Regions from separate parts of the Homo sapiens genome. Here all the other regions are linked to region 2. The links come from fine-mapping of genetic effects on gene expression. A gene starts in region 2. Each other region holds a variant in brackets. All regions are shown on one strand. Distances are from middle to middle.

Region 1 (8,000 bases), 670 kb before region 2:
AAGGAAAATAGGCTTTTCTCAAAAAAGTCACGATTATCTTATGGAAAACACGCCCACATTTCCTGTCACTACATCAACAGAATAATATGTAATTTAAAATTTTAGATAGAGTTTTCCTTCTGAAGTAAAAACAGTTCTATTTAATCAAGCTTTTCCTAATCTGACACTGGAGACCATACTAGACATATAGGATACTACTAAACAATTAAGTGCTTTTTTTTTTTTTTTTTTTTTTTTTTTCAATTTAAGATCTCACATTACCTTTCACAGACACCTGAAATCCAACAGCAATACTGCGGGGCCTAATCTACTTACCACGTAAATTAAAACTCCAAGATAATTTCAGATATCATTTCTCATAAAGCTGGGTTTTTTTGTACTAATAGTTATGGTCCGAGCCATGGGTCCTCGTTACTGTACATTAACTAATTTCATCTGAATTTTATGAGGGGTTGATTTTATAATAATTGATGCAAAAGATTTCAAAAGGTTATATCCCCAGAGAAGACTTACACCACAGAGCAAGCATAGCATCCTTTCTTGCTACTCTCACGAATTAAGAATGCACCATCAGGTTTCCCATAAAGCAAGTCCTCTGCTTGTACTCGATTGATATCCTCAACAAACCAGGTTTTCTCATCATAATGGGGCAGGTTTTCATCTTCCTCATTGATAAAATAGTTCCTAAAAATTAAATATTAGTATATTATTCTAACAAGTTACTTCTATCTAAAAGCAAATTCATAAATAAAACACTCTTCTAAATCTTTAAACCACAAATAACAAAGCAAAATTGCAATTATTTGGGTGTTAACTTCATTACTTGCTATGGTGCATAAAGCAAAGAATTCATGTTTCATCCAATAAGCTGAAATATGAACATCTGAATAAAAGTGCTTTTACATCCAGATTTTGGGTAGCTATACTCAAAGTAGCTTACACATCCAGATTTTGAGTTCAGAAGCAGGTCTCTGAACTCCAGTGCCTATAGGGTACCTTCAGGCAATTCAATTCAAAAGATAGTCAAAGTTCTAGATTCAATGTCCTCAAGTGACAATGACAACCAATATTTACCACGTATAAACAAGGCGCATGTCTTATATTGATAACAAAGCCCTCTGACAGAAAGGTATAGAGAGAACTTACTCATCAGCATCCTCATTCTTAATTCCCAGCCAGACATTCAGGCGTTTCTGTCTCACTCCTTTGTGATTGAGCCATCTGCCAGAGGAAAGACACCAGTGTCAGTATCCATGCAAACTCTGACTGGACAAAGTAGGTATGTCTGAGCCAACTAAACTTCTAGAGTCTAGACACCTCTTGTTTTTCCTAATCCCACAGAATGGGCAAAGATTTCCCAAAATTAGTCTCTCGATTACTTTTCTTTCAACTACTATCAAGATGAACTGATCTTTTCCAGAAAAAGGCAGAAACATAGAGGGCTACTTGAAATTAGGCCCTTCACTTTTCATTTTTCTTTTCTGGAGGATGTGCCACCACAAGCACACACATACTCGCACTCACAGTGGGACATTTGTTTCTGAAAACATTAGGTTAGCATGGTGTCACATTTGCAATCTCCACTAAGCCTGAGGACACACTTCCTGTGTGACCTACTGAATTGAGTTTAATATTTTAACTAAAAACTTCAAGATCTATTTTTGCATTTAAGCAGGCCACAAGAAATTCAGGGTGGCAATCTGAGTAATTAATATGAGTGAACTTCATTACCAAGAAAATCATAGTATCCAAGCCGGGCGCGGTGGCTCATGCCTGTAATCCCAGCACTTTGGGAGGCCAAGGCAGGTGGATCACCTGCGGTCAGCAGTTTGAGACCAGCCTGGCCAACATAGTGAAACCCCGTTTCTACTAAAAATACAAAAATTAGCCAAGTGTGGTAGTGCATGCCTGTAATCCCAGCTACTAGGGAGGCTGAGGCAGGAGAATTGCTTGAAACCAGGGGGTGGAGGCTGTAGTGAGCTGAGATTGTACCACTGCCCTCCAGTGTGGGCGACAGAACGAGACTCCATCTCAAAAAAAAAAAAAAGAAAGAAAGAAAGAAAAGAAAAAATCATAGTATCTTAAAATGTGCTAGTATTTTAAATGTAAAATGAGGTAAACCAGCACACTTTGTTCCTTTCAGATGGCCAATAGTCTAAAACTAGAGTGGAGTGGAAAGCATCTTCGTTCATCATTACCCACCAAGCAAGGCTCCTATCATTCAGGTTTCATCATCAACACCATCCCCTCAGGGAGGACTATCCTAACTGTCCCAACTAAGGCAGTCCCCAGTCACTCTCTACACTTTACCTTGTTTTATCATCTTCATAGCACTTAGCTAAAATCCATTATTTTATATTTTTGTTTGTTTGGTTGGTTGGTTGGGGTTTTTTTGAGACGGACTCTCACTCTGTCACCTAGGCTGGAATGCAATGGCACAATCTCGGCTCACTGCAACCTCCATCTCCAGGGTTCAAGCAATTCTCTCACCTCTGCCTCCAGGGTAGCTGGGACTACAGTCACGCGCCACCATGCCCAGCTAATTTTCGTATTTTTAGTACAGACAGGGTTTCACCATGTTGGTCAGGCTGGTCTTGAACTCCTGGCCTCAGGTGATCCGCCCATCTTGGCCTCCCAAAGTGCTGGGATTACAGGCATGAGCCACCGTGCCAGGCCTATTTTATATTTGTATTTGTTTATGTCTGTCTCCCCAATAAAATGTAAGCTGCTGTAATGAAAGTGGTCTGTCCTGTTCATGGCTATGTTGCCAATTATTAAAACAGCACATGCACATAGACATTCAATTGTCAGTAAATATTTGCTGGTGGGCTGCTTTTAACAAAATCTTCACAACTCCAGGATCATCCTGTATCTCCCCAAGTATACAAGATAACTTGGCATCACACCTAATTTTAAAGTTCTGTTAGACAGATTTCACAGTCTTTCTCAGTAAGAATTGCCCTTTAGTTAACTTGGATTTCATTTTTTATTCTTAGCAAAACTGGAAAATAGATAATATGTGATCTTGATACAACTGATTTAGTAACAAACCCCCTCCCCCACACCATCGCGTCTGTCATCAAAATATCCAGATGCCCTCCTCTAAGCATTCTTATCACCCAAAGTTTTCTATCCTTAAAGAAACTGACCTTCTCTTTATCAAAGAAATATGCACACTGGGTAAAAAAGTGTGAGTTGAATGAATGCACGACATTTTCTCTTGAATCCCCATTTTCTTTTAACCACCAACCTCTTTAAACTGAGCCTCCCTTTCTGCCACACACAATGTTAGGAACTCATTTCCTAACACTTTCCTAATTGAAAAAAAAAAGAAAAAGAAAAATTGCTTTTGCTCCACCCTCCATTTATGATGGTGCCTACCTTCTGACTTAGGCAACTTTTCCAATCTCCTAAAAGTCCATTTCAAAGACTTATCTAGTTCTGAGTCCTTACAAACCTATTAACAATGCCAGGAGTTGATTAGATTTTAAAAACCATTTTCAAAAACCTCAAATAGCTTTAGTAAATACGTTAATTCACATTTAATGTTATCGAATCATGCACTGATCACAAATAGATGCAATAAATTCTACAGGAAAAATCTGAGGCAAAACATTCAAAGACCTAACATCCAGCTCTGATTCTGTTGGTGTGGTAATTGGGTTGTAAAACCAATTAGATTTTTAGAAAAGATACTATATATACATATTTTTTGGCATGGTCTTGGACCCATCTCTCTTTGGCCCAGCAATCTCTTCTTAAAAAAAAAAAAAAAGGAAAATACTACTTCCATAGATTAAAAATAGCTGGTGTTAGCATATCTTTTCCTAGCCCTACCCCAGCAAGTAAGGGAAAAAATATGTATTATATAGTGTCCTTTCTAAAGATCTAATTGGTTTTACAGCCCAACTACCACACTTTAAGAAGAGAGTTTGTGTTTCAGTCTAAGACAAAAGGATTAAGCTGGGAAGCCCCTGAGAGAGAAGGACAGGAGAAACGACTTTGAAGCTGACGCCTTCGTCCTGGAAGAAAGCAGAAGCTTAGAGCCTGGCTGAAGTAGAAAACGGGGTGACAGAAAACGGTGCCTCAGGCACAGGGCATCCTGGATGGAGAATGAGGTTTTAAGATGCAGCATCTGTTGGTAGCCAGTGATGAGATTACTGTGAAGGACACCTTGGAATTTTCTAAAATAGCCAGATGGCAAGACCCAATGATTAGGCAGAGGAGCACCCAATGACAGCAGTCAAGAGGGAGGCACAAAGGACTTTGTGCTCCTCTAATTTTCTGGCACTACTTCAGGATGACATTCTTACATGATCCAAGTGTCAGTCTGTGTAGGAGGTATGAATGATAACAGAGATCAAATATTTTTAATGTAACCAGGCCAGTGGGAGCTTGGAATAAATTTAATTAAAAAAAAAAATGAGGAATGGAGCTGGACGCAGTGGTTCATGCCTGTAATCCCAGCACTTTGGGAGGCCAAGGCAGGAGGATCACCTGAGATCAGGAGTTCGAGACCAGGCTGGCTAACATGGTGAAACCCCGTTCCTACTAAAAATACAAAAAATTAGCCAGGCATGGTGGCGCACGCCTGTAATCCCAGCTACTTGGGAGGCTGATGCAGGAGAAGTGCTTGAACCTGGGAGGCAGAGGTTGCAGTGAGCCGAGATCGTGCCATTGCACTCCAGCTTGGGCAACAAGAGTGAAACTCTGTCT[C/CA]AAAAAAAAAAAAAAAAAAATGAGGAATGAAACTTGTCTTCCACCAAATTTTATGGACAGACATATTCTCTACATAAAAACAAAGTGGGATAACATATACAATACTTTAAAAAGAAAAATCACTTATAAAAATTTAGTTATCAGAAATATATTAAAGAATGAAGCCAGGTGCGGTGGCTCATGCCTGTAATCCCAGCACTTTGGGAGGCTGAGGGAGGTGGATCACCTGAGGTCAGGAGTTCGAGACCAGCCTGGCCAACATGGTGAAACCCCATCTCTACTAAAAATACAAAAATTAGCTGGAGGTGGTGGTATGCGCCTATAATCCCAGCTACTCAGGAGGCTGAGGCAAGAGAATTGCTTGAACCCAGGAGGCAGAGGTTGCAGTGAGCCAAGATTGCACCATTGCACTCCAGCTTGGGCAACAAGAGCGAAAATCTGTCTCAAAAAAAGAAAAGAAATGTATTAAAGAATGATTCATTACTTTAAGAAACCCCAATTATCACTACTGGTGTGAATGTAAAATAGTGCAACCACTACACAATGATAATTACCATATGATCCAGGAATTTCACTCCTCAGCATATACCCATGAAAAATGAAAATACACATCCATCCAAAAACCTGTACATAAATGTTCACAGCAGCATTACTGAAATAGCCAAAAAGACAGAAACAACCCAAATGTCCACCAACTGATGATGATTAAACAAAATGTGGTATAACTATACAACAGACTATTATTTGGCCATAAAAAGGAATGAAATACTGACATACGCAGACAAACTTTGAAAACACCATGCTAAGTGAAAGAAGCCAGTCACAAAAGAGTACATTTTACATTATTTTCATTCATATGAAATGTCCAGAATAGACAAATCCATAGACACAGAAAGTGGATTAGCGGTTGTTTAGGGCTAAATGAAAGAGGTGATAGGGATGTTAAGTAAACAGTGCAGGGTTTTTTTTAAGGTGATGAAAATGTTCTAAAATATGTGGTGATGACAAAATACCTGTGAACATACTAAAAACATTGAATAATACACTTTAAATGGGTGAACTGTATGCGATGTAAACTGTATCTCAATAAAGTTGTAAAAGCAAAAAATAAAACCAGAACACAGCACCCTCCACAGAACTTTTTTTTCTTTTTTTTTTAATACAGAGTCTCATTCTGTTGCCCAGGCTAGAGTGCAGTGGGGCGATCTCAGCTCACTGCAACCTCCACCTCCCGGGTTCAAGCAATTCTCCTGCCTCAGGCTTCCCACTAGCTGGGATTACAGGCATGCGCCACCATGCCTGACTAATTTTTGTATTTTTAATAGAGACAGGGTTTCACCATGTTGGCCAGGCTGGTCTCGAACTCCTGACCTCAGGTGATCCACCTGCCTCAGCCTCCCAAAGTGCTGGGATTACAGGTGTGAGCCACTGCACCCGGCCACATAGAACTAACTCCTTTATCTGCAAACTCCCCTATATATATATTACTCAAAACTCATCAATTCCCTAAGCAGAATATGCATCAAAAAACCCATCATCATTATGTACCTATATTGTTATGGCCGTTATTATTTTAAATTTATGAATTTTGGTTTATGAATACTGTAGCCCCTGCTTATCCATGGGGAATAGTTCCAAGACAACCAAATAGATGCCTGAAAGCAGACAGTACTAAACCCTATATATACTGTTTTTTCCTACACATACATACCTGTGATCATTTAATTTATAAATTAAGCATAGTAAGGGATTAACAAAAACAAATAATACACTTTGGGAGGCCGAGGCAGGCGGATCACAAGGTCAGGAGATTGAGACCATCCTGGCTAACACAGTGAAACCCCATCTCTACTAAAAAAATAAAAAAATTAGCTGGGCATGGTGGCAGGCGCCTGTAGTCCCAGCTACTCGGGAGGCTGAGGCAGGAGAATGGCGTGAACCCGGGAGGCGGAGCTTGCAGTGAGCTGAGATCGCGCCACTGCACTCCAGCCTGAGTGACAGAGTGAGACTCCATCTCAAAAAAAAAATTAAATAAAATAAATAACTAAGAATAAAATAGAACAATTATAACAATATGCTGGAATAAAAGTTATGTGAATGTGGTCTCTCAAAATGTCTTATTGTGCTGTATTCACCTATCTAGACTGTGGCTGACTGGGGATACCAGAAAACACGGAAAGCAAAACCGCAGTAAGCAAAACCATGGACCAAGGGGGACTACAATACCAAAAAAGGTAAATGGTAATCATGAAAGCTAGCCTTAACTCATGAGGAAAAAGAATTGCATATTAACAACAAAATTCCTTTTTTTGAAAAGGAATTTTTTAAAAAATTGATACCTAAGAAATTTTTAATGTATTTATTGAGTTATAATACACATAAAGCACATTAATCTTAAGTGTACTGATAAATTTCTACCTATGTATAAACCCATGGAACCCCACTCATATCAAGATTCGAACATTTCTAGAACCCTTAAAGGCTCCTCATCCCATTTTCCCATCAAAACCCCCACCATAAATAATCACTATTTTTAATTCTATCATCATAGATAGGTTTTACCTATTCTTGAGCTTCCAGTAAATGGAATAATATCCTAGAATTTTTTTTCTATATTTAAGCAATGAAATTCTGTATTTAAACACTCAAGAATATCCTACTAGTAGTACACCAAGCTCTCAGCAGACAATCACATAGAATCCTTGTGGGCTATGGAGTGGCCAGTCAAGGAAATGACCACATCCAAAGAGGGCTTAAAGAACTAATGACAGTCTTTAGGTAGGTATCACAGAATTCCACCCTATTCCTTTAAAACAAGACCAGAGAGAGATCATACTCAGTATCATGCAGCAATGCTAATATGAGACACGTATTTTACTACCAGTCTTCTTCAGGACCGACTATACAAATTCCAGCATTAGAATAGATCAAATCCACCAAGCCCAGAGACAATTCTCTGTTAGAAACATCAAAGCATGGACCATGGGACACTGAACTATTCTCCTGGAAGCAGCCCTTCCAAAAGAGGTAATGGCTGTCTGTGTCTCCCTACACTTCTGAGTTGTCCTTACTTGTAGGTTATGAATTTGTCATCCATGATGTTATCTAAACTCTTATATTTGTTGTTGTTGTTGTGGTGTCACTGTTTTGTTTTCTGTGGTTTTTTTTGGTGTGTATGGTTTTTGTTGTCTTTTTTTGCTGTTGTTTTCTTTCTGTCTTCTGTATTTAGTTTATACAACCCATTAAAGAAACTTCCAAGGTCTGGTTTGCCACATGCTATATAG
Region 2 (8,353 bases):
TCAAGGCTGCAACGAGCCAGATGCCACTGCACTCCAGCTTGGGTGACAGAGCAAGCAAGACCTTATCTCAAAAAAAAAAAAAAACAAGAAAGAAAAAGAAATGAAAAAGTAATTTGGATGTGTAAAATATAACTTTACAATTTAGAATATACAAAACTCTGTGACTTCAAAACCTCCTTAAACTTTAAAACTCACTCATGAGATAAACATTTCTGACAGTTGCACAGTGTTCAAAGTAGGTATGGTTGTTGTAAGCCCTTCACGAGTATGTAACTTAGTTCAAGTTTCCTAAAACTTTAAAATGATAACACTCATTAATGGTATTTAAATGTTTTTTTCTTGAAAGAGATCGTGTTACTAGTATAAGCACAGCTAAGGAGAGAAATCTATCAGTCCTTGCTCTAAGCTTGAAAACTGATAAGTATGCAGAAAACCAGTTCTTCCTGTTTCTTCTACTAAACTTCTTTTAGATTACTGACCAAGTTGATATCAAAGAGATCTGTAGGCACTTGAAGAAATGTGCATAGGCTTACAAGGCCACCAGGAACAGTGGTGCAGACAGTAGTGTTATAAATGTGAATTTGGGCAGCAAGGGGCAAGAGGACGCTCAGCTCTGTCATACTTAATCACTGAACAAATTACTTAATCCTTCTAAGAGCACAAAATAATAAAAATAATACCCATCTCACCGGATTATTTTGTAAAGAAAATGATTTGAGACTTGGCACAGAGTAGGCCTTCCACAAATGTTAGCTACTCTTATTATTGCCCATTCCTATGCTCCTATTCAGTCCTTCTAAAGAGGCAATCGTTTGACAGATGCTCCCACATTCTTTCTCAAATGGCCCTGTGAGGTGGAAGGAATAGCCCAGTGTTGTCATTGCCACTTTATGCTTGGGGAGATGCAAGCCATAAGTAGAGGTTACACCAAGTTCTAGACTCCTACCCCTAGGGTAGGAGTCTCTTGCCTTTTGCACGCTAAGCATTGACTGCAATGCCATTATTTCAGATGCTACTTGTCCTGCTGGTGCATAAGCACTGCCTTTTATTTGTGAGTTTAAAAACAAATAAGTGTTACAACATTCAAGCAGAGAGCTCAAAAAGAGTATAAAAATACTGAGAGGAACGTATAATTGCTTCACTAGAATGGGCAAAAATCTTCGTTCAGCAGGGTTGACTTTGTCCCAGAACCTGGAAAGGAGTCCAGGATTACACCCTGAAAAGAGTGACCACTGCTGGGTGTGGTGGCTCACGCCTGTAATCCTGGCACTTTGGGAGGCCGAGGTAGGTGGACCACCTGAGGTCAGTAGTTTGAGACCAGCCTGGCCAACATGGTGAAACCCCGTCTCTACTAAAAAGACAAAAAAATTAGCTGGGTGTGGTGGCACACACCTGTAATCCCAGTTACTCAGAAGGCTGACCATGAGAATCACTTGAACCTGGGTGGCGGATGTTGCAGTGAGCCGAGATTGCGCCACTGTACTCCAGCCTAGGCGACAGAGCAAGACCCTGTCTCAAAAAAAAAAAAAAAAAAAAAAAAAAGAGAGTAACCACTTACTTACTTGTTCGAAATTTTTCCTTGAGGGCATCCAGATCCTCCTTGAGAGCAACCTGCATCCACACCAAGCCAACACAGGCCACAACACAGGCAGCAAGGATGACAAAACCACAGAGCGGATAACAGATCTTGCAGCATCGTAAATAGTCTCCCCTGCTCAAGAGGACAAATTCAACCATGAGTACAAAAGTGATTATGGGTATAGCTTTATTAGCAATAGTACACGTTTTGCCATGCAATTATCTCCTTTAAATGAATAACCAGTGAATTAACCAGGGGAGGCAGGGTAAAGCACTTAAATGAATAAATAATATGACCTATTAAGGGTTCATCTACTGGATACAAAGGTTTCAAATGTCACATAAAACAGAAGGAGTTCCTGCAGGTAAAAGGAAGAACCTAAAGGCACTGCAGCTGTCATTATCAGGAGGGAGGTCTTTGAATACAAGCTCAGGTCACAAAAGTGTAAAGACCAATGTTTCTCTGCAATTCCATCTCTGCACTGGAATTTGCCTATTGATTTCTCTCTGAAATACATACTCACTCCGGGGAACCTTGCTCCAGTTTACTGAAACTTTATAAACTTTTGAGCAAGTTTTACTGCAAAAGAAATGAAAGAAACAGGATCTGTAGTTTTAAGTGGACACCTGGTGTATTCTAGCTTATTGGCTCAGAAGTAAGGAAACATAGAAGGGGCTGGATTTCACACAAAACATCAACCAACCTTCAAGGTCTAAACTAACTTAGTAGGGTTACTACTCCAGGTACCTTCTGATGAAGGTAACACTTCAACTGATCTTCATAACCCAAACCCAGGATTGCCCTTAACAGCCTTAGCTGACAAAGCTCATTAGAAATCAAACTCTTCCTTTAACAAAACAAGACATTTTAAACCAACCAACCACTCAATGTCAGCACCCCGACCTTCTGCCTAGCCATTGTTTCTACATCCTCAGCAGAATCCTCTTTTCTTTTAGTGTGCTCTGAGAGAGTCAAAGGACGTTTTTGAAGTTCCCTTTAGTCCTTTCCCATCCTGAGCCCCAATCCCAATGTCCTCAAATCTTACTACTTGATTTGCCTAGTGGTCTCTCCACCTATGAATGGCTAGGGAAAATGATGCCTCTTCTTTTGCCCCCCGACCCCACCTACTCTCAAGGCTCATACTTCCTACAGTATATCTCTCACCATATTTCCCCACCACCAATATTCAGACTCATCAAGAGTGCAAAAACGAAATAATCTGCAGTCTTAAAGTCTCTGCTTCTCCTTTGTTCTACACTGTTTTAAAAAGTCTAGTCCCCAAAGCTTCTCTGCTCCTCTGTCTCCATTCTTTGCTTCTTTAGGACTCCCTGGGCTCTTGGCACATTCTCCAAGTCCACATTTCCACCTCAGATTTGGAGCTTTTCTTTCTACACCTAAAGACAGATCTCTAACTTATTCTTCATTCAGGATCTGAACTTACCTTCTCCCTAAAACCGTTTTTCCCTCTTTGACTTCCAAGGCCTACACCCTTTTTTCTTCCTAAGGACTTCCTTTCTCCTTCCTGTCAATGTGGCCCCTTGGTAGTGCAAGGAGATGCCTTCTTCCCATTCCACCTTTCACCACTACTCACTTGGCAAAGCGAGAGCGATTTCCAACCACACCGAATTCCTCTTCCTCTTCGGAGCTGGACTCAGAGTCTGAGTCGGGAGGCTCAGTGCGAAGCAGGCGGTGACTGCTTGGGCCTTTCTTGGGCTTCTTTCTCCGGCTGTCCCCAGCCAAACCAATCAATGCATTGAGCTCTTTGCGCTTTTTCATCTTTTTGTGTGGGGTGAGTGGAGCCCCGACTCCTGAGCTGCCAGGTTCGTACCCGATGCCCAATTCTCTTCCTGCCTTGGAGCTGCCTTCCAGGGTTGGGAATCCTGGGCCAGAGCCCCCTGGTCACTCCCACCTAGGGGTGGGACTGACCAGATCCGCCAGGGACTGGAGATTGGAGCCCAGAGGAAACTGGAACTCAGATGGGTGGGGGAAATCACATAGAAATGGCCAAGGAGCTGGTGACCCCAAAGGATAAGGCCTTGGGTGCAGAGTGTTAGTAGAGGGTGGAGAGGGACCTTTATCTCCCAAAGGGCGAAAAAAAAGCCAGGTCAAAAATGAAGGATTCTCAGCCCGGATAAGTAGGCAATACTTCTAAGGGTGCTCCAGGAGGTGAGGAAGGGCACGCTTAAAATACGTGTTTCGGACCTCCGGAGCAAGATTTCCAATGGAGAGGGAAGAGAAACTCGTTCTTGAATGGGAAGAGAGTGGGGAGGTGCAGAGTAAGAAAGTGGGAACGCGTCAGTCCCTTCCTTGCAGGAGAGGTGGCGGCAGGAGGGGGCTCCCAGCAGCTACAATCCCAACACTGCTTGGCCGCAGAGAAAATGCCCTGGCCAGGAAGCCGGCTGGGGTGTGTGATGATCACCGTTCTCCGGCCTCCGTCCTGAACGTGAAGGGGGCCCGAGGCCGAGGAAGATCCGGAGCCCGGCTAGAAGGGTCGGCCTGAGAGAAGCCAGTCCCGCGCCTGATAGACCCCCGCCCCGCTGTCTGGGCCTTGGGGACACGGTGCCGCGGGCGACGGCGGCTCGGCCGACCGAAAGCGCTCCCGCCCGGAGTTTGAGGTCTCCGGCACGGGCAACTCTCGGCCACTCACACGCGCAGGCCCCACTCCAGCCGCGACTCCGGCCCCTGCTCCGGCTTCGGCCGCGGCTGCTCCCGACACGTTGTTGTTGGCGTTGGTGGCGGCGGCTGCGGCGGCGGCGGCCGCGAGCTCCAGCCCCGGGCCATCGCTCCAGCCCCAGATCACTTCCCCTTTGGCAGCGGCCGCCTGCGCCGCCTGCCAGTAAGCCGCACTCCCATTGGTCGCCCGCTGGGGTGACGTCACGCCGGGGCGAAAGTCGTGGCGGAGAGGTGGGGCGTTAAAGGGGCCCTGCCCCGGCTGGGGCTGGGTCCCACCTGCCGATTAGGGTGGCCCCGCCCCCAGGAGGGCTTCCGGGACCTGCTGCGAACCTGAGCCGGGTGGAGTCCTGCATCCTGCGGAGCGCGGGCGGGGCAGGCAAAGCGCCCGGCTGCTCGACCTACTTCGAAAGTTCATCAGCCGCCCACGCCCCCTGGACTAACCAAGTCTGAAGGCTCCGCCTCTCTGACTCTCACACAGGCTGTTAAAAGTTTAGGCGCGTTTCAGATTAATTAACACATTCATTCAGTCAATAAATATTTATTGAGAGCTTACTTACTACGTGTCAGGAGCTGTTCTAGCGCTGGGGATACAGCCATGAACAAAATAACCAGGGTCCTTGTCTTCCTGTATAGTGTTGCCAGATTTAGCAAATAAAAATGTAGGACACCCAGTAAAGTTTGAATTTCAGAGAAACAGCAAACAATTTTTTAGCATTAAGACATCCCATGCAACATCTGGGACATCCTCACACTAAAAAATTATTCATTGTGTATGTGAAATGCAAGTTTAACTGAGCATCGTGTATCTTATCTGCCAATCTATTCCTGCAGTTTATTTATACTCTAGAGGGAGGAGAGCAACAATAGGCAAACATATTAAATGTCAGGAGGTGATAAGTGTTATGATGAAAATTGAAACACGGTCAGGTGATGGGGAGTGCCTCTGTGAAAAGGGAACATTTAGTCAGCTTATCGGAGGAGAGGTGAGGGAATGAGCTGTGCAGTGGCTGCAGGAAGGAGTGACCAGGAAGACCTGTTGTGGCTGGACCAGAAGAGCAAGGAGCAGAGTGATAGGAAATGAGGTCAGAGAAGCATCAGAGGCCAGGGCTTTAGGGCCTTATGGATCACTGAAAGGACTTTGGGAAAGCACTGGGGGCTTTAAGCTGAGAGGTAGCATACTCTGGCTTTTCCGTAAAAAAAAAAAAAAAAAAAAAAATTCACTCTGGGCCAGCGCGATGGCTCACGCCTGTAATCCCAGCATTTTGGGAGGCTGAGGTGGGCGGATCACAAGGTCAGGAGATGGAGACCATCCTGGCCAATATGGTGAAACCTTGTCTCTATTAAAAATACAAAAATTACCTGGGCGTGGTGGTGCGCGCTTGTAATCCCAGCTACTTGGGAGGCTGAGGCAAGAGAATGGCTTGAAACCGGGAGGCGGAGGTTGCAACAAGCCGAGATTGCACCACTGCACTTCAGTCTGGCAACAGAGCGAGACTCCGTCTCAAAAATAAATAAATAAATAAATAAATAAATAAATAAATAAATAAATAAATAAATAAAATAAAATAAAATAAAGGAAAAAATTACTCTGGCTACTTTGTAGAAAAAAGTGGGGGGAGAGTGAGGAACACAGGAGAGCAGTTTGTTACAGTCCAGCTAGAGATGATGCTGATAGATTAGAGAGGCAGTAGCAGAGATGGAGAGCATTCTGGATGTTTCTTGAAGACAGAGCTGACAATTTTTGCTGATAGATTAGATGAAAGGTGTGAAGAGAAGAGAGGGTTTGGCGGTGGAAACACTGGAAGCAAGGAATTGTTATTTATTGAGATGGGGTAGAGCAAGTTTGGGACAAGTTTGACAAGCCAATTCAATATTCAAATGGAGGCTGTTTGGTATACCCATTGAGAGTTCTCTGGGCACAGGTTGGGGCCTGAAATATCAATTGGGAAGTCATCAGATATAAATGGAATTTAAAGCAAAGTGCTTTGAGCTACTTGGAAGAAAGTCACTTAAAGTAATTTTTATGCCCATATTCTTACTGTGGCAATTACGCTGCTTTTGTCCAAGGATTCTCGCAAAGCCTGGGCCTGTATCTGATTTGTTTTTAAGTGTCTAGCCCAGAAGTGTACTCCTAAATAACGATGACCCAATAAATATGTGATGACTACATAAGTGGGCAGTGTTGCAAAGAGGTATGAGTGGACTTTTGGAATCAAAATCAAGAAACCTGGGACTCAATCATGTCTCTACTTCTTCCTGGCTCCATCAGCATGGAAGCCGTTTAGTTTCTCTGAGCTTCAGTTTTCTCCTCTGTAAAATGGGGATAAACACCTATTTCACAGGACAATGAGATGAATGTGAAAGTGTTTTTGAAGCCCCAAGTCATGGTGTATTGTCCCCTTTTGTTTCTAGAGCTTCATTGCCCAATACAGTAGCCAAACTGGCCACATATAACAATTTAAATCTACATTTAACATAATTAAAACAAAATACAAATTTTAAATTGGTTCTTCAGTATCATTGGCCACAGTGTCCAGTAGCCATATGTGGCAAGTGGCTACCAGGCAGCAAGTAATAGTACAATTCCACCACCACAGAAAGTTTTACTGGAGAGTTCTTCACTAATGCTTCCCTGAAGGACTGGGGATAGACAGGTGAGGCTCCTGACTTCAAGAACCATTTCTGAAACACATCCTGTGGTCACCAGAAGCCCCAGGCAGGAGAGGTGGCTGGCCCGAGGGTGGGGTGGCCCTCCTTTGTTGTAGATGATACAGGTTCCCAGGGAACCAGGGACTGAGGAACCCAGGGGAGTGGGGCAGGGCTGAGGACATACCACCCCCGCTGCAGGGACTTCTGGTCAGCCAGAGCCTGTGCTCTCTGTGGGTGGAGATCTCTCCCATGACTGGCCAGTGGGCTGGTCATGGGTGGGGAGGCTGCAGGAGTAGAATTGACAAACAGGGGAATGCTTCTGCTGGATCTGCCTCTCAGTCCTTCTGTCTGCCTGTTTGCTTATGATCTGTAGATAACACCCCTCCTTGTTGGGTAGACATCACACAGGATGCTGTCACCCTTTGAAAGTTACTGGCCAGCTGTTTCTTTTCCTTCAGGAGCTCTTGGATACCTCTCTGGCCTCCTTCCTCAGACCCGGGACCCTCAAGGCCAGGGATTAAGCCACCCCACTCAGAGTGGGGCCTCCTGCTGCCCTCCCACACCAGGACTCCCAAGGTTGTGATCCATCTTCTCCTTTGGGGTTGTTCATATTATGATCCTGGGGAGTCTGTTAACCTACTCAAAACTTGCCTGAAATGCAGTGAGTTTGGGGAAGTCACTTTAGAGTTCTGGCGCTTCAAAGTTTCTGTCTGTGATATGGGGATGATAATATTCCTAGCCCAGTCTTCTGCTTCATGTTGTTTGGGGCAGGGAGTAGCATGGGCGTGCTTTACATGCTGTGAAGTGTCATGCAGAGTGGGTACATGTCTGCTGAATGCTTCTGGCAACTCTATGGGGAAGGTAGGCAAAGATGATTTCCCTGTGCTCAAAATCACAGCCCATATAACTGGCAAAGCCAAATCTTGAGACCCTGTGCTACTTTGGAAGACTCCATAGAGTGCTTTCACTTGGGCAAGCTGAGGCACAGAGTAGGGGCAAACTTGCCAAGGTCATAGTCAAAAATTGGATCCAGCTCTCCTAATTCCTGGGCTGAAAGCTCTTTAAGATCTTGGAGTCCTCTCTTACCTGGGATCTAAGTCTGTGTCTGAACATTGCCACTTGGCAGCTGTGTGATCCTGGACAAAGTACTGAGCCTCTCTGAGCCTCAGTGTCCACTATGATTGCCACCTCAGTGAAATAGAGGCAATCATAGTACCCAGGACTGGCTACATAATTTATGAGGACCAGTGCAAATGCAAATGCAGGGTTCCTTTTCTCTCTCTGCTGTCTCTCTCAACCTGTCTTCCTGTTTATTATTCACTATTTAATGTTGTATTCCCTTAGGCCTGGTGATACAAGGTGAGTGTAGACCCTCACATGAGACAGGCAAGAGGCCTGTTTCATGACTTGGCATGCAAACTCTCTCTTCCTCTCCCTGTGCCGACACCCAGG
Region 3 (8,000 bases), 640 kb before region 2:
AGAGTCAATCCCCTCAGACAAAGGTGGAAAGGCCAGTGTAGGGGGGATGCTGTTACTGGGGGTGGGAGGCCATTTCTGCTGGCAAACAAGACTCATCAGAATTTAGGAGCTCAACGTCCCCAGCCTCATCAGGGTCTTCCCACACATCCCCATCCAAACGTATAGAATTCCATCTTTCCCAACCAATGCCCTCATTTTAACAGCAGATACCTTACAAGGCTGATATTTCACCTTTGATTGTAATTCAGCTAATCACATGATGAGAGTATGTGTTTGATTTTGTGCAATTTCAGACCTTTGGCAACAGAAGAGAAGATTCTGACTTAGGGCATATTTAGAAGCTCTTGGGCTATTTATGGCAGAGCTGGGGCCAGGAAATCAAAACCCTGAGCTCACCCTTTTCTTTCATCACTTCGTCCAGCAATATTAGAAAACCTTGGTTTTCTACAAACGTTTGACAGTATCAAATACAGGGTTGCCAAGTTCCTTGCCTCTTATAGGTGGTAAATTAGAAGTATCAAATGCAGATATTTAGCATATCGCTATATAAACAGTTCACAGCATGGACTGTCAGTGCTCTCTGTACTATTAGAAGTAGGGTCCTTAGCATTTTTAAGTCTCATCAAATTAAGAGAGCCAATTCCGGGAACCCCAAAATTAATTAAGGAAACTCATCCTTAAAATTCTCTTCCTCAGGCTGGGCACAGTGGCTCACGCCTGTAATCCCAGCACTGGAAGGTCGAGGCAGGAGGACTGCTTGAGCCCAGGAGTTTTGAGACCAGCCTGGGCAACACAGGGAGACTCCATCTCTACAAAAAATAAAAAACACAAAAACTAGCTGGGTGTGGTGGCATGCGCCTTTGGTCCCAGCTACCCAGGAGGCTGAGGTAGGAGGATCACTTAGGCCTGGGAGGTTAAGGTTGCAGTGAGCCATGACCATGCCACTGCACTCCAGCCTAGGAGACAGAGCAATAACCTGTGTTAAAAAAAAAAAAAATTACCTTCCTCTAGAATCATTCCTGGTACCAAATCTGTGTTAATCAGAGTTCTCCAGAGAGACAGAACCAATAGGAGAGAGACAAAGATAAATATGAGGGGATTTATCAGGGGAATTGGCTCACATGTTTATGGAGGCTGAGAAGTCCCATTACAGGCCATCTGCAAGCTGGCATGCCAGTAGTGTGGCTCAGTCCAATTCCTAAAGCCTCAGAACCCAGGAAGCCAATGGTATAACTCTCAGTCCAAGACTGAAGGCCTTGAGAACCCATAGGGGGTGAGGAGGATTGGTATAAGTCCTGGAGTCCAAAGGCTGGAGTTCTGATTTCCAAGGACAGAATAAGAGTGTGCTCCAGCTCCAAGACAGAGAGATAAAATTTTTTTCTTTCTTTTTGTTCTATCCTCAGCCAATTGGATGGTGCTCACACTGAGGGGCGATCTTCCTTACTCAGTCCACTGACTCAAATGCTAATCTGCTCTGGAAACACCCTCACAGACACATCCAAAATAATGCTTTACCAGTTCTCTAGGTAATCCAGCCAAATTGACACTTAAATTAATCATCACATATATTAAGGCCATGGGACAGGACAAGCTCACCTTAAGAGAATGAATACAGAGAAGAAAAAGAGGCCCAGGTCCCAAGCCCTGGAACACTTAAAATTTAGATATTGAGCAAAATAGCTTAAAGTTAGGAAGAAAATCAGGAAAGTGTGACGTCTTAACAGCCAAAACAATAAACTGCTTCTAAGAAGAAGTGTCTATGACCAATGCTGCTAAGAGGTCAAGTAAGGTAAGAAGAGAAAAGTGTTTAGCAGTCTCCGTGGAGTGGTGGAGACAGAAGCCTGAGTGGAGTAGAGGAAAAATTGTGTTCAATGAATTACTGTAGAACACTGATTAGTCAGCACAATTCAAGTGCAAAGGTATTAATTTCTTTAGCTCTTTACCAGAAACTAAAATAGTGCCTCCAAATTTATGCCATACTAGCATAAAATGAGGCATTATTTTTCCTAAAGATATTAGGCTGGAAAGGCAGCAAACAGCCAGATGAATCTGGATTTAAACTCTTCCTCTACCACTTTCTAACTATGTGACTTTAGGCAAGTTCCTTAACCATGTTAACCCTTAGTTACCTCATCTATAAAATGGGAATAGTAATAATACCTACCTCATAAGGTTGTTGTGAAGAATAAATGATCTATTGCATGTAAAGGCCTTAGTACAAGAAAGTTAGTCATTGTTATTGTTACTGTTATTTTCTTTTTGTTAAATATTTCCTTTTTAAAAAAAATCATAAGGCTTTATTGTAACTGGGCTACTTTAATTATTAAAATTAAATGTGGAAATTTCTCATGCAGTTTTCTTAACCTTTTAAAAATATGTGCAAATATTAAAAAATCATATATCCATCACTTAAAAGACTCTAAATATGCCCATATGAAAAGCATGATATACGCTAGGAACTGCTTTATCTTCAGCATATCCTCATCAACCAAAATTATGTTGAGTTCTGCTTTCTAAAGTCTGCATTAAGGAAGATAATAGGGTTATTCAAAGGATAGATTCATTTTTACCCTTAGAATATGCCCATGACTTCTACTTCCTTTATAAGGTCAACAGTATGCTTCCTACTCCCTTACATTTTGGGATTTTAACCTTTTCATTTTCTTTCTACATTTTTTTAAGTTGCCATTTTTATACAAAATGTTTAAATACTTAATGTATAGAAAAAAGAATTAGCCAGACTGGAAATTATGTACATAAATTAAATGAAAATATGAAAAATTGTATAGATAAAGATTTAAATACAGAAATATCTGTATACCCAGAACTAAAATAACATCAGTAGAGAACTAGCCAAAAGACTGAAAAGTACTTACCGCAAAGTCAAAGTATAATCTCCCTGCATTTTTGTTGAGGCATCTCGGACCAAGAAGGTCCCATCTGGCATATCCCGCAATTTGTCATTTACCTCCTCCCTGAAGAACAGAATTATAAGAAAAATGAAAAAATGTCAACACTGGTGGCTTCGGCAGTAGGTGTGCCTTCTTTACATGTTACTACTAAGGCAGCTTCGGCAGTAGGTGTGCCTGAGGTTATAGAATAACGGAGCCATTTAGAGGTCATTTAGTTCTTCCCTGCATTAAATATGCTCTTTCTGTTTTGATTTTTGGTGTTACGCAATCTACAGAAGAGCTATTTGATTTTTAAACTCTTCCAGATTTCAAATGTGTGTAAGAGATACTGTTTCCATCAAGCCTTTAAGGGTTTCCTTAGGCAGGTCTGAACTTGTAAAGTTTCAGGAAAAAAACAGTGGCTGTTTAGAAAGAAGGTTATATTTAAGCAACAGTGGCAGCTGTTTCTGAACAGAAGGGGGAAAATTCACTAAGTTCATAACCTTTCAATAGGATAGTCTCCTAGTTTGAATTTGTCCCGATAACAAATTCCTTCTGTAGAGTTGATTTAGGACTTTAAGGCACAACACTAGAACACTTAAAGGAAATGGCAGGGCATAAAAGACCCTTGAATCATATCAGAACCACATGATCTTAAAATTTAAAAAAAGACTTTTATTGTACAATATTAAAATAGAAATATTCTAACCAATTTTAAAATAAAATGGCTGGGTGCAGTGGCTCACGCCTATAATCCCAGCACTTTAGGAGGCTGAAGCAGAGAGGTCACTTGAGGTCACGGGTTCGAGACCAACCTGGCCAACATGATGAAACCCTGTCTCTACTAAAAATACAAAATTAGCCGGA[C/T]GTGGTGGCAGGGCAAGCGCCTGTAATCCCAGCTACTTGGGAGGCTGAGACAGGGGAATCACTTGAACCTGGGAGGCGGAGGTTGCAGTGGGCTGAGACTGCACCACTGCACGCCAGCCTGGGGGACTGAACGAGACTCTATCTCAAAAAAAAAATTTTTTTAATAAAACATATTAAGTCCTCTTCAAAAAGTTAAACACAGAATTACCTACCATATGACCTGGCAATTCCATTCCACTACTGGGTATATACCCAAAATAACTGAAAGCAGGGACTCAGATATGTGTGCACCAATATTAATTGCAGCATTATTTACAACAGCCATAAATTAGAAACAATCTAAATGTCCAGATGAATGGATTAAAAAAATATATAACATATACATATATTAGCCTTAAGAAGGAATGAAATTCTGACACATGCTACAACATGAATGAACCTTGAAGACGTATGAAGAAAGTGAAATAAGCCAGTCACAAAAGTACAATTATTATATGATTACACTTATGCAAAGTACCTACAATTGAATTCATAAGACAGAAAGCAGAATGGTGGTTGCCATGAGCTGAGGGAGGGGAGAATGGGGGGTTATTGTTTAATGGGTACAGAATTTCTGTTAGGGAAAATGAAAAAGTTCTGGAGATGGATGGTGATGATAGCTGCACAACAATGCAAATGTACTCTTAAAATAGTTGAAATCGTAAGGGTAAAAAAAAATTAAATAAATACCATTTTGGTAGAGGAAGAGAACAGAGAAGAGAAAGGGATAGGTAAGTGTTCTGAGGAATACAGCATCAACCTGGAAACTGATTTGACAGAAATGGATAGGGCTTTAAAAAGAAAATACATCTGAGACCCACTAAAGCAAGTTTAACAAGAAAAAAATTTAGTAAGAAAATACAATATTCAAATTAAATGTATATAATTCCCTCTTTAGGTTCAAAATTACCTAAAACTACACTTTACCCAGAAAACAAATCTGTCCTAGAGTCCTGTTTATCAAACTGGGGTGTGTAAAGAGACTGCATCAAATTCACCCAGGGAATCTATTAAATGCAGATTCCTGGGCTCCACCTCAATTGATTTTTGTGCATGCAAAGACTTTGGAACCACTGGCTTAAGAGAAAGAAAGGTACAGAAATGTTAAGTACCCACAAATATTTTTAATTCTAAAACACATGTAACTATCCTAAATGTCTACATGTCACTTATTTAGAAATCCATCCTCAATATAGTATTAGAAGTAATAATCACACCCATAATTTAAAGATTTTCAGCCAGGTGCAGTGGCTTACACCTGTAATCCCAGCACTTTGGGAGGCCAAGGTAGGTGGATCACCTGAGGTCAGGAGTTCGAGACCAGCCTAGCCAACATGGTGAAACCCTGTCTCTACTAAAAATACAAAAACTAGCAGGGTATGGTGATGCATGACTGTAATCCCAGCTACTTGGGAGGCTGAGGCAGGAGAATCGCTTGAACCCAAGAGGCGGAGGTTGCAGTAAGCTGAGATCATGCCACTGCACTCCAGCCTGGGCAACAGAGTGAGACTCCATCTCAAAACAAATAAATAATGAAGATTTTCTTGTCACTTTTTCATGGGAAGAAAAGTATTAAGACACTAATGAAGCGTTCCCATGCAAAATTTTTTAAGTGAGCTTTTTCTTTTCTTTTTTTTTTTTTAAGAGACAGAGTCTCACTCTGTCGCCCAGGCTGGAGTGCAGTGGCACTATCTCGGCTCACTGCAACCTCCGCCTCCCAGGTTGTAGCAATTCTCCTGCCTCAGCCTCCCAAGTAGCTGGGATTACAGGCGCATGCCAACATGCCCAGCTAATTTTTTGTATTTTAGTAGAGACAGGGTTTCACTGTGTTGCCCAGGCTGGTCTCAAACTCCTGAGCTCGGGCAATCCACCCACCTCAGCCTCCCAAAGTGCATGGCTTACAGGTGTGAGCCACTGCACCCGGCCTTAAATGGTAATCTTTAAATAACAATTAGTAGAGCATTACAATGCTCTTTTTTTTTGAGAGTTGGGGGTCTTACTCTGTTGCCCAGGCTGGAGTGCAACAGAGTGCTCTCTACAGCCTCGAACTCCTGGTATCATGTGATTCTTCAGCCTCAGCCTCCTGAGTTGCTGGGATTATAGGCATGAGCCACCATGCCCAGCTTAAAATGGTTTACTTTAACTACTAATTCTCAAAAATGACTTTTTAAAAAACTGCATTCAATTACAGTAGCATTCTAGTTACCTTGAAATATCCCCCCAGTACCATTCTGCATCCTGAAGAGAAACAGAACTGTCCTTCATTCCATTTGGAACTGCTGAAGTCATTGGCTTAGGTGGCTTTGGTGGAAGAGCTAGAAGAGAAATGAATATTACTCTGTAGATGTAAATTATTTACTGTTTTCTAATTTCCTCAGGAGCAGCTCACTAACCAAGGTATGTTAAGATTCTAATAATTATCAATCAAATTGAGTATTATTTTATGTTAAATGTTAGCAACAGAAGGAATCCTTTTGATTGCCTAAAAAGTGAAAACGTCAAGATATTTGTTTTTTTCCTTCTTATGAAACATTGACTTCTAAGTCTGTAAAACTTCATTCACATCTCTCAAAAGACAACATGCAACCCCTTTTCCAAACAACTCAGTCCAAAAGCCACTAAGTGACCAATGTACAACATGAGGATTATAGTTAATAACATTGTATTATATACTGGTAATCTGCCAAGTGAGTAAATTTTAGGTATTCTTACTACCAAAAAAAAGGGTAACTATGAAATGATGGTTATGTTATTAATAATTTGCTCAACTGTAATAGAATGAACCCCCTTGTCTTGGACTAGAATTAGAGCTACAGATATCAACTCATGAATTTCAATGTATATAAACATAAATATGTAAATGTCTATACACAGAATACATATATTCCCTAGCTCTGTCCCGAGACAGAGATTCCCTAACCCCCGGGCTGCGGACTGGCACTGGTCCACGGCCTGTTAGGAAAAGCGCCACACAGCAGGAAGTGAGCAGTGGGCAAGTGAACATTACTGCCTGAGCTTCGGCATTAGATTCTCATAGAAGCACAAACCCTACTGTGAACTGCACATGTGAGGGATCGAGGTTGTGTGATCCTTATGAAAATCTAACTAATGCCTGATGATCTGAGGTGGTATAGTTTCATCCTGAAACCAATACCCCCAGCCTAACCCCACCCCAGCAATGAAACTGGTCCCTGGTGCCAGAAAGGTTGGGGACTGCTGCCCTGAGAGGTCCTGGGGGCAACAACACCCCAATATGTACACTGAGCACCTAGACCTTGCTTTCTAATACCATTCTCTACTAAAAGGAACCAGGGCTCTTTGAAGAAATTGCTGATTCCAGGGACAGAATAGAGCAAGTACCAAATGAGCCTGAACATCATCATGTGCCAAAAAGGAAGGAAGTGCTCAAAGAATGGGAGAGGCTATGTTAAAAGAACAAAACAGCGAACTGGAAGGGGCTCTCACTGACCAAATCTGGAACAGCTGGCATATCAATACAAATAATAATAGTAAAGAAATATAACTCATTAAACAAAATAGGAATATATGTGTTCATGCAGATATAAATAAATAAATAAATAAATAAAAGAAACAAAGATCGATGAGGACCAAGATTACTGTTATCTCAATATACTGTCCCACAAAATCCTAACTGCAAAAGGAAAAACAATAATAGTGAAAAAGCCTGGCAAATACCACCTTAATCAAGAATCAAGGTTAATATTAGAAATAATGGCAAAACTGTGGGCCCCAATACAATACACTAAAAAGGATGTAACATCACTTCTGTGACATTCCTGCCAAATATGTATAAACTGAATCTAATCATAAAGAAACATCAGACAAACCATGATTGAGGGGTATTCTACAAAATAACTTACCTGTAATCTTCAACAATGTACAGGTCATGAGGGTCAAGGAAAGACTGAGGAAATGTTTCAGATTGAAGAAGACTAAAGAATCCTGACAATTAAATGCAATGTGTAATTCTGGACTGGATATTTTTTGCTATTAAGGACAACACTGCGACAATGGGCAAAACTTGAATGGGATCTGAGTATGACATAGTAGTAGTACAGCAGTGTTAGTTTTCTGATTTTGATGGTTATATTGTGCTTCTGTAGGAAAATGTTCTTGTTTGTGGGAAATACACACAACATGGTCATCATATGGCATCACGTTGACAATCTACTTTCAAATGAT

What was found.
Region 1: its variant is fine-mapped to the expression of EFCAB14 in whole blood (INTERVAL, PIP 0.98).
Region 3: its variant is fine-mapped to the expression of EFCAB14 in whole blood (INTERVAL, PIP 0.98).

The regions. Positions count from the first base shown.
Region 1 is chr1:46,045,405-46,053,404 of GRCh38, forward strand. P3R3URF-PIK3R3 (P3R3URF-PIK3R3 readthrough) reads right to left here. Exons shown (of 10, transcript NM_001303427.2): 8 at 1,147-1,221; 9 at 514-684. It overlaps PIK3R3 (phosphoinositide-3-kinase regulatory subunit 3), which reads right to left. Exons shown (of 10, transcript NM_003629.4): 8 at 1,147-1,221; 9 at 514-684. It overlaps LOC124904171 (a long non-coding RNA gene), which reads left to right and starts at 6,825. Exons shown (of 3, transcript XR_007066061.1): 1 at 6,825-6,950; 2 at 7,601-7,743. The variant C/CA (reference allele first, on the strand shown) is at 4,717.
Region 2 is chr1:46,714,733-46,723,085 of GRCh38, forward strand. EFCAB14 (EF-hand calcium binding domain 14) reads right to left here and starts at 4,382. Exons shown (of 11, transcript NM_014774.3): 1 at 3,171-4,382; 2 at 1,563-1,711. The coding sequence starts at 3,355. RefSeq lists silencers at 4,187-4,236, 4,557-4,606.
Region 3 is chr1:46,074,639-46,082,638 of GRCh38, forward strand. P3R3URF-PIK3R3 (P3R3URF-PIK3R3 readthrough) reads right to left here. Exons shown (of 10, transcript NM_001303427.2): 2 at 6,004-6,112; 3 at 2,877-2,975. PIK3R3 (phosphoinositide-3-kinase regulatory subunit 3) reads right to left here. Exons shown (of 10, transcript NM_003629.4): 2 at 6,004-6,112; 3 at 2,877-2,975. Among named protein-coding and RNA genes, the nearest start is that of PIK3R3, 54 kb to the right of the region's middle. The variant C/T (reference allele first, on the strand shown) is at 3,759.